Regions from separate parts of the Homo sapiens genome. Here region 1 is linked to region 2. The links come from fine-mapping of genetic effects on gene expression. A gene starts in region 2. The other region holds a variant in brackets. All regions are shown on one strand. Distances are between the middles of the regions.

Evidence for each region.
Region 1: its variant is fine-mapped to the expression of CYTIP in whole blood (TOPMed, PIP 0.96). The same link has a PIP of 0.9 or more in NK cells.

Annotation. Positions count from the first base shown.
Region 1 is chr2:157,413,022-157,418,336 of GRCh38, forward strand. It overlaps CYTIP (cytohesin 1 interacting protein), which reads right to left. Exons shown (of 8, transcript NM_004288.5): 8 at 1,598-3,122. The coding sequence ends at 2,656. Among named protein-coding and RNA genes, the nearest start is that of CYTIP, 28 kb to the right of the region's middle. RefSeq lists an enhancer at 681-730. The variant C/T (reference allele first, on the strand shown) is at 1,979.
Region 2 is chr2:157,441,806-157,447,198 of GRCh38, forward strand. CYTIP (cytohesin 1 interacting protein) reads right to left here and starts at 2,284. Exons shown (of 8, transcript NM_004288.5): 1 at 2,042-2,284. The coding sequence starts at 2,215. RefSeq lists enhancers at 1,945-2,044, 2,085-2,134.

The sequences.
Region 1 (5,315 bases), 29 kb before region 2:
TAAATGCTATCTGTATCTTAAGATATAAAATTATTACAAGGTAGAAAGTCATAAATAAAAGTTCACTTCCAAAAATATATTACTAATCTGTTTGTCATGGTTGTGTTCTTCAGCCACATGATAAAGTAATTCCCAATCTACTTGATTCAAATTTGGTTTATCAAATGCCCTTCTAGAAAAATGCATTTTCATAACAGGTTGTCAATTAATGGAATTCACCAGTAATACATATTTGAGAACTTTCAAGTTAAAAAAACACTTTTCAATTTTTTCCCTAGTAAATTATATCAGAATGAATCACTATGCACCAGAAGTTTCTTCTAAAGCCTGACTGAAGTCATAAATTAGTCTGAAAGTTATACTGTGAGAAATTTACCCACATTTCTACTAAACAAAAGCTAATTTTCTTACAGCTTGTGAAATATAGAACATGACATACCCTTCCTTCCTGTACTTTGGTTAACCAGTACTTTTTTCTTTATTCTCAGAACATACCTCGACTCTAATTCTTACCGCAAACTAAAGTGATGCTTGCTCCGTCCCTTCCCTGCCCCTTTTTTGCATTTGAGGTCTACTGTCATACAGCAGTGTTACACTTCTGTATTAAAATCACAAGAAAAGCAAATGATCTATGGTCTGCTTTCCCGTATGACCTATGTCATTCTGTGTAGTTCTCAAAGCATTTTTTCACCTTGTAGAAGATTTCAAAGTCATCTTTCCTCAAATAAATGTGGTGTTTCCTTCCCCTGGACTTTGTGAAATAGGATAACAAGAAATGCTGAATTCATATAAGTAGACCTTTAACAGGATGATTCTAGACTATGATGAGAAATAAGCAATACCAGTTGAATCATAACTGGTTTGCAAGCTCTTGTTGAAAATAAATGCACTGCTAATCATGTAGTTATTAAAGAACCTATGTCTGAAACTTGTATATGAGGAACAGAGAAATGTTTGTTTTCCTATTTACCCAAAGAAATGCTCTTATCTGTGCAGCATCTATAATTGTACATTTTAAGTATTCCTGTTGGGTGGAATAAAAAGTACTGTGATGATCACTAAACAGAACCAAAAGAGTAAAAGATATCTGGAATAGACTAGAGCAAGGAAGAACTGGCTTCCAATTTTAGCCCTGCCACTGACTAGCCTTGTGACCCTGAGAACATTTCCAAATTCCTGACTTGTTATCTGTATGCCTAACACCTACTATATAGTAATTGTGAGGATCATACGTAAAGTGTCTTTAGCCAACTAGGTACTCAGTAAATGGTAGACAGTATTGCTATCATTTCTGTGAAAGGTGTGACACCCTGCCTTTCATATGAGTGACTGTCATGCACAGGCCACTGGATGTTTCTCAGTTCAAAGAGTTAATAGAAGGCAAGTCCCAACTAGAAATCTTTTCATACTTTATCATTTCTTTCTCATCTTAGATGCTTCCTTACCCTACCCTCTTTTATCTCAAAATAACTCATTTCTTAAGCAGAAGTTTAATTAAATTTAGCAGCTCTACTTAAATTGAAGTGTTTCTATTTCTCCCAAACACACACACACACGCACAGAGAGAGAGAGAGAGAGAGAGAGAGAGAGAGAGAACTTAAAATCAGCAGACTATTTATTACATAGTCCAGATTGTCTACTCTAGAATATAGGTTATGAATAGCTGTGCCACCAGAACAGAGAATTCATAGACTTCAATGGATATTAAATAAAACATGGAGTAATTGAAAGGCTAGAAGTAATGTGATACTAACATAACCAATAGGCAAAAGACTGCTGAGGTGATAGCTATTTAGAATATAAGATATAAAGTGAGAAGTAATATGAAAAAAACTACAGGAGGGAAGTCCTTTTCCCAACCCTCAGTTTTGGATGTTAGACATTTGTAGAAAAAAAATTACAAAGCTGTAGGATTCGGAGAGTTCTAGACTTGCCATTAATGTTCAGGCAGAACAAAAGCTGAATTGGGCAAAAAACA[C/T]GACATCCCCACCCATTTTGTTTAGACTGTCTATAAAAATGACTTTATTATGATCTTTGCAGCACCCATCTCAGACCACATCTTTCCATGGTTCTCATGAACCTTAACCCCTCCTATTAAATCTTATACTTCCCGCTTTATTGTCACTATAGATGTGAGAAACAGCTGATGGTCATCTTTGTTTACAAGCCATTACAGGTTTGAACAAATTCAAAATTGCCTATTATTAAGCCTCCGCAGGAGCTACTGGGCATAAGCAAACCTAAGATTTTATAACCCAGCAATTATCCTATAGAAAATAGTCCAGATTATTATATTCTGCCACACCTTTATTCATACTTGACTCCAAAAAGTTCTCAATTATTCACAGGGATAATCTAGAAAATAAATATTAGTTTTGCTTTCAAAGACATTACTGGAATGAGCAGGAACCTGCATCTTTGTTATATTAATTAACTTATTATTTAGTTTTCCTGTCTGCTTAGAAATTGGCTGTTTAGGTTGAAAAATGATTTAAGAAGCATAAACTATAACACAACAATTTAAATAAAGGTCACTATTGCTGTGAAATGGGATGTCAGTTTTGCAATTCTTCTGCACTTTCCCACCAAGCTGGGATCTGGGTGAGTCTAGAGATATTTGTGAAATAAGCTAATTTGAAAGGACACCACAATCCGTCAAAAGCGACTTTCTTCCTCTTCCACAGCACGATGAAGGCCAGGGATAAATTTCAAGAGTTGCTTTCGGACACTTCCCTTTCTGCTCTTCCGGGGCAGGGTCCCAAACATGCTTGATAAGTTGCCCTCCCACAAGGGAGACATGGATCCGCTGCTGGTGTTACTGATGCTCCGGTTCCTCCTTGAAGATGACCTCCTCAGAAAATCATCCCCCTCCTTGGGGATAAAGCACTCATCATCTGTACTCGTCTGCCGACTGAAGGCACCCCTGCTGGAGTCCTCAGACACACACGTCTGGTAGCCATCTTCACTGTCCATCGTCATGGAGCTCAGCCAGCTCTTACAGCTGCTCTCACTGGATAATCGATTCCGGTCCACAAGGGCTGGGCCTGGCCCAGGCAGGGGTCCAAACAAAGACAATTCATCCAAGTCCATGTTTTCCAAACTGGGGCAATTAGCTGCATCACCTAGAGCACAAAGTCTACTGTGAAATGGATCTGTTCATTACTCCCTACAAATAAATACACTACATCAAAACTTCTCTTTGAATGACACGAGAAAGAGTAAGGGTGAAAAATACTTTTCACTGAGCTTTGGCGTGCTTGAATAAGTAACTGTTTATGAGACCATTTGATAAACCTTATAGTAGGGTTTCCTGAACTATTGTTCATAGACCAAGGTTCCATGGTCACAAAAATTATAATATTAGAATAAATTTAAACAAGATGTTTCATATGAGAACAGTTCAGCCCAATTGACAGTCTACCAGTGTGGCATCTGAACCTCCAAAATGATCATTTCTTAAATTTAAATAACCCTGAAACCTTTTATTAAAATTCTCACAGAAATGGGGTTCCATAGAATACACTTGGGGAAATACTATCATGATTTTCTCCACTTAGTTTCTCTGATTCTTAGGTACTGTCTTTTAAAAATAATTCTAAAATTATTATAAAACCATTTGAAGTAAATAGAAAACAGTTATGGAACAGGTAATTCAAAAGTGTTTCTTAGAGAAAGGATTTGTGAAATCAAATGTATCTTCCAACCTCAATATTCCCAGTTTCGTTTTGGAATACTTAAATTCTCTGGAATGATACTGTACCCAGAAATCATCCTTGTCCTCAAGTAAGTAATAATTTATTTGAAGAAATTGAATTTTATCTGCTTGGCTAAATTTTTTTCATTGATCCTTAACAACGTACATCTGGCTCTTCAAACTCTAATGTTAATCACATACCAATATGACCCTCCCTGCTTCCACACTAACTGAGTTGGTTGGTATCTTGTGTGTGTGTGTGTGTGAGAGAGAGAGAGAGAGAGAGAGAGAACTTGTAATACCAGCCTTGGAAAAACGTAATCAGTAAGTGACTATGCTTCAGAAAAAATAATAGAATACTGTACACTCTAAAATGGTTTTATTTTGTACTGATTATCTCCACTGCTGCTGTCTTTTGTCCTCGGTTGACAATATAAAAAGAAACTGTTCTTTCAGATGATTTGCAAGGTTGAGTACAGCCAGCCCCATGGTGACTAGTCATAATGCTTTCCTTTTTGCTAATACAACCTACTTCATTTCATCTTGCAATAAGTGATGAATTTCTTTTGATTGGAGAGCAATTGCCTTATAGAATCACATGCCCTGGATGTTTACTATACATCTAGAAAAAGCAGAACTCCTTCAATTGCTCAAAAAATATGTACAACAATGACTTTATGAGGATCCTGACCTAACAATGTTGTCTATACAAGGCTGTTTCTATAGAACAGCAAGAATTTATATTCACTGGGCCATTCAGGATGCTCCAGAAGTGGAAATGAGGCTAAAAAGCCCTCATGTCTAAAGAAAGCAAGGAGGTGGCTGAATTTACAAGGCCATAAAGAAGTTTTTGTATTAAATATTTCTGCCTCTCTAACAAACTTCACTACCCAAAAGAACTATTATGAATTTTTTAAAAATATTAAATGAAGACATAAAAAAGAGAAGTAACTTGTACATAAGTTTCAAACACTTCAATTTAAAAAAAAAAAAACAGAAGTTCATACCAGAACTCTAAGCCATAAATTAGTGACTAGTTAAGGATTAAATTGTTATCTTTTTTGGTAAACAAATTGATTATCACTTTTAACAGATATTCTAGGTTACAGACTTAAGCTTGGTGCTATTTAAAGAAGAGATAAGCTATATTTCACACCCACGTAGTGGTTTCAGTGAATTATTTGTACACAAAAGTTCATTCCTTTGGTTACATCTATCATACAACAAATAGCGAATTAACACATTTTAAACTCAACCCTTCCCTTAAAAATGCACTCAATGGCAAGAGCTATGCATTTACTGTTGTATTCATCTTACGCATTTATGTCTTTGTCTTGGGGGCCATGAAAAAGAATTTCTCTGCATAAATGCAACTTATGCAATTTAAACAAAAGACAGGAGCTCTACCCAATAAGTGTGCAACCATTCCAGCTTTAATAGCTTCTAAAAACTATACAGCCCCTTAGCCGTGATTGTTTTCAGAAATGTAATTCATTCACTGAAGTAGAAGGAAAGTTAGGCAATCTTCCCCAATGATTTTCTAAAATCTCCAGGTGCCTGTTTTCGAGCATGTGCATCTGTGTGCATGTGCATCTGCGTCATGATACGCAGTAGTGGATCT
Region 2 (5,393 bases):
TTCCCCCATTTCCTCTTTCTCCAACTACTGCAAAAGTTCCTCCCTCACCACTAGTCTCTACTCACTAATCCACTACATTTCTACAATAAGGTTCCTGAAATCCTCTACTTCTCAAACACGTTCAGTGGCCCTCGTGCCGGCTTTTTCAGGGGAAGTTGTCCAAGTGTTCTGTAAAGCAGCCCAGCGCTGAGATCTCCTCTCACCTCCTACACACTAACCAGGTTCTCCTGACACACTTAATATTGTGTTGTTACACAAAAAAGTCCTCCAGGCACCAGGATCTATGCCTCAGCTTCAATTTCTCCCTTGCTCTGGAATACCCTTCAATATCTGGAATACCCTTCAATATCTCGAATATCTATTTCCAAGGCTATATTTACAGATGTTTCACTTCGATGAGAGTATTCATGTTGTTTTACTTTGCAGAAAACCCATTCTTTCTGCTTACTGAATTGTAAACAGTATATGGGTAGGAAACATTCCCTTCTCGTCTTTTTACCTCCTACACTTAGCATGATGTCTGTCTCCTTGTAGGTGCTCAGAAACCATCTGTTGCATTGAATTGCATGGGCTAGAGAGTAGATCAAATGAGTAAGGTTGCAGGTATGGAGGACATAGAGGGTGGAAAGTTCCCACCCTGATTGAAAAAGTACCCACAGTCTCCAGCAAAAAAAAAAAAAAAAATCATAGCCTAATCAAGTGAACCATAGTTGGTGTGATAGTGTCATGGCAAATATAAAGAAAATCTGACTGCTTTATATCTGAAAACTGAAAAAAGATGTCAGCATTTCTCATGTTGCTTTATCTTCAGACAGGTTGTAGATTGATAAAATGTTCATCATTACATTAAACTTTGTATCATAAAAGCACTTTAGATTGAGAACAATCAATAATCCAAATCATGGAAAATTGTGCCCTTATCTTCACTCCGAAAAATACCAAGGAATCAGCTATTATACATCACTGAAAAAAGATCATGTCTCTCCCACTATGCCATACCTCTCTAATCCTGAATTTAGAAGGCTTACGAGAAGCACATGATTGTACATGCAAGACTTAAGCGCAAAAATTCTTGCTCTAGGGCAATTCTAAATATTTTCTGTAGAAATGCTACATCGAAATTCAAATATGTACCTGGGGATTTAGAGCAAGTTGTTTAAAAAAAATCCTGAAGAGGTATTATGGTTAAAAAAAAATTTTTACATGTTAGAAATTGAAGAACGAAAAAATCAAAATAAATTCAGTTAGACATAGATTTTTCCAAATGAGTTTTCATCCCTAGAGACAAACTTTGCAATAAAAATATTAAAATGGCATAATCTAGCATTTAATAAACACACACTGAATGCCAGTCACTGTGTTAGGCACTGCACAGTTCCTTATTTAACCAACATAAGAACCCAATAAGGGTGGTTCTATTATTAACTCCATTTTAGAAAAAACAAAACTGAAGCTTAGAGAGGCAAGTGGCTTGCTCAAGATCCCACAGACACTAAGTGGTGAGCTGATATTCAATCTGGCACTCATCTATCCAAAAAAAAAAAATCTTACTTTCCAATAGCCTGAGGTATGTGCCAGCAACCCAGAGCTGAAGATAATTAGTCAACAAAATTTGTCCTCAGAAAAAGTATTTCTTATTTGATTATGAACTGAAATGACCATCAAGGACTGCAAGTAAGGATGGAAGGGAAAGAATCAGTGGAGACACAATGGGGAAAAGAGAATTAATTCTCATACTGGTTGTATCTATATAAACCATCTTCAAGTTTTTTATGCTTAATGATGTTTATTTTACCTGAGCACTTCTTCAAATAAGAAAAACAATCTTAATTTTTGCCTTGAAAAAAAAGTTTGATTGTGGTCTCAAATCTTTGGACTGGTTCACCTAGCTCCCTGAGCATCTCACCTCCTTCACCCATAATAATCAGCCAGTAATTCCAAAGCCTCTAAAATATCACCATTAGTATGAAGTCAGACAAACATATCACTCTGCCCTCAAGAGAATGTGAACACTCTAAAGGGTACAAAATAGCAATCATACCTGCTTTCGTCCCCGAGGCAGAGTAGCCACCGTGTCTGCTAGCATTTGAATCCTTCTATTATCGTCCATCGTAAGGCTGCCGGTGAGTGTGGAGTAAGAGCTATACGCTGGCCCAGCGCAGAAGTCCGCCAAATTGCCATTGCTGCTGTGTTGCAGGAGCCTTTGTAAAGACATTGTGAATAAAGATCACTCCAGCTAGCACATGGTTGAGTGGCCTTGCAGGATGGGGGAAGCTAAAAGTACAACTGTGACAAGTAATCAAAAGTAGCAAAGCAGAAAGAGCCCATGTGACCTCTGTGGTTTGAGGAACTTGTTACACAAACCCTATCTTGCTATTCACTCCCATTTCTCAAAGCTTTTTTTCTTTAAGCTCCTGAGAGAACCTGGAGCTAATTTTTACAATTTAAAGAAAAATCAACTTATTTTTTCACCTCAAACAGCCAGAATTCTTACGCTTTTATGTTCTGTGGCAAGTTGCATTCACACCACCATTTGCCATTTTTTTCTTTAGAGAAGAAAGAAAAATGTCCCCAAGTGCTACCATTTGTTTCCCATCCATTCTCTTACTTAACATTAGCAATGCAATGCAGAAGTCAGCACACGAGGACATTCAGTTCTTGTGAATATGGGCAAGAATTACAGGTGCCGGTCATAATGTTCTCTCTCGAAGTCCTTGTAATACTGTACTTTCCCTGAAGTATACCCTAGATCATTAATGTTCATCAAAAAGACATTATATCTGCCACTGAGGTTGTAACCATTCAGCATTCTTCTGGTTGTCCTTTTACTACTTTGTCCTTACAAAAATTACCCATGATCTTTACAAAGTACAATGGGAAGGGAAAGCCAGCACATTTAGGGCACAATGTTGCCATTTCTTAGACGAGACTTTGCGGCAGCATCAGCAAGTGGTCCCAGGGGAGGAAAGGAGTGGGCAGGAAGGTAACAGGCAAACCAAGGTGGCACCAAGAACATTGCCTGTTGGTCCCTGCATGTGCATATGGGTCAAGGGCACCATCACCAAGTACTCAAGATCACAGATGCTTTTTTTTTTTTTCCTTTGGCTGAGGTTGGGGGCAGGTAGTTTTGAGAGAACTGGTTTCAGTGGAGGAGTAGGGGAGGCAAGTAAAAGGAAGAATCGAAACAAAAGTCAAAAAGAGAAGTTTTATATGGCACAAAAAGTCAAATGTGCTTTTTAAAATCTCTGAAGATCAATACTAGCATTTGAAAGAGTTAGCAAATCTTTGAACTAAAATGAAATGTGTGTGTACTGGAAGTGAAGATGAATTCAACTCAAGTAGAAATTGCCAAATATAAATAGTAAAATCTGAATTAATAGTGCTTCAAAAGTTGAAGCCAATTATAGATTTTAAAAACTCTATCACAGCATGACTCATTATACTGGAATTGAATTTTGACATGGACAAAGTGATATCACCACAAACATATAACGGTCTAAATCAGGAATTAAAAACACATACGTTTTCAGAAGCCAGGTAAGTAACATAAATGTGTAAGGCAAAAGGGAGTGGTAAATACCTTGGCAACTAAAGAATACATCAATTATAAAGATATTCACGTAAAATCTATATTTATAGATATGTACAGATATGTATACAGGTATATGTGGGGTGTGTGTGTGTGTGTGTGTGTGTGTGTGTGTGTATTAGGAAGACAGAGAGAGAGATTGATTTTAAAAACATTTTCAGGCTAAGAGGCACATAAATTAAATCATCACTATTAATGGATGACAGCAGTCCACTGTACCCTAGGAATCTGATAAAGTTAGGTAAATATTTTTAATTTTTATTCTTAATATTTTAAAATGCCAAATGGAAATTATACATTTGCTTAATATAAGGCCACCCACTCAGGCCAACTGACTCACCCATTTTTATAAATGACTACTAAAATTGTACCAATTCATTGTAATACTGACCTTAAGCTGATGTAAATCATAGATCATCATTCAATTAAGAAACTGGAAAATACTTATTACTTAACTCATGAAATGTGTTAAGTAAAATTTTTCAAATAATGGGATACCTGGATACAAAACAAGGGTCAAAAGTACCTCTGACATCCAGCCAGCCCATATCAATGTGGTCACACCTGTTAATTACAAATTTTTGACCTAGTCTATTTTTATTGGTCATTTCCCTGTTCTGTCAGTGCCTGTGTCATGCCAGTCACTAATATCATGATCAAAAGTGTCCCTTGTGATAAAGGGTGGAGAAACAGTAATCTTTTAAGGGGAATGTGACTTCCAAACAACAAATCCTTGACTTACAAAGGTGTTCTACTGTTTAGAACATCTCTTTTCTTTTAGGATTTACCTTAGGAAAATTATAATAGACCAGACTCTCTTCCCCTTCAGCCTCCCATTTATTTTAGAGAGGTGATTCTGGAAATGAATTGGATCAAGCTACCTAGGTACTCAAAAGATTTCAGGAGTATCTCACTGTTCACAAAAAAATAAAATAAAATAAAAATTATTTTATATTATCTGATTTCATTCTCTGAAATGTCATATCATTTTTTTAGATTCTTCTTTTGAGACTTAATATATTCTAGTTAGGGCAATAGTTAATTGTATACAAATCTGTTTCTCTGCTAATGTCCAATTTCCTTGAAAGCAAGGAACATCTTTTATCTTTAAATGTATACTTTATGTCCTACATACAAAAATTGTTCAATAAATGTTAATAAAAAGAGAAAGGTAGATATTAAACAAAATGATTAAACAATAGTGTTCTGTGGTATTAATAAGGAAAAAAATTAATTTGGTAGGAAATGTATGTACTACAAGCCCATATTCCAAAGTGCTACAATTTTCACTAAGGGGTGATCTGAGAGATGAGGACAGAGTCTCTTAAAAATACGTCTCATCTGCCTTTATGCTCTAAAAGCTAATATTTGTTATGTGGGGCAAAGCTCTTATTTGGAACATTTTGTTCATAAATATGCAAATACCCTTGGAAGGAATTAATCTTTAGTACAAATGAGATGAACACTGAGGGCCTACAACATGGAGATTTGGTAGAGTCAGGTGAGAGGAATATACCTAAAGCACGGAACAGAGAAAGAAAGGTGGAAAGGTTTGCAAGACAAACTGAGCCAACCTTACAATCATCCATGAAAATCTTAGGCAGCTGTAAGAGGGTTGACAACAGGGTTCCAGTGTCACACTACTTAGATTCAAGTCCTAGCTCTGCTGCTTTAAAGACTATGGACTGAGTTGTATCCCCCCAAAATTCATACATTAAAGCCCTGAGCTTCAATGTGTCTGTATTTAGAGATAGGGCCTATAAGGAGGTTAATGAATCATTTAAGGTTAAACGAAGTCATAAGG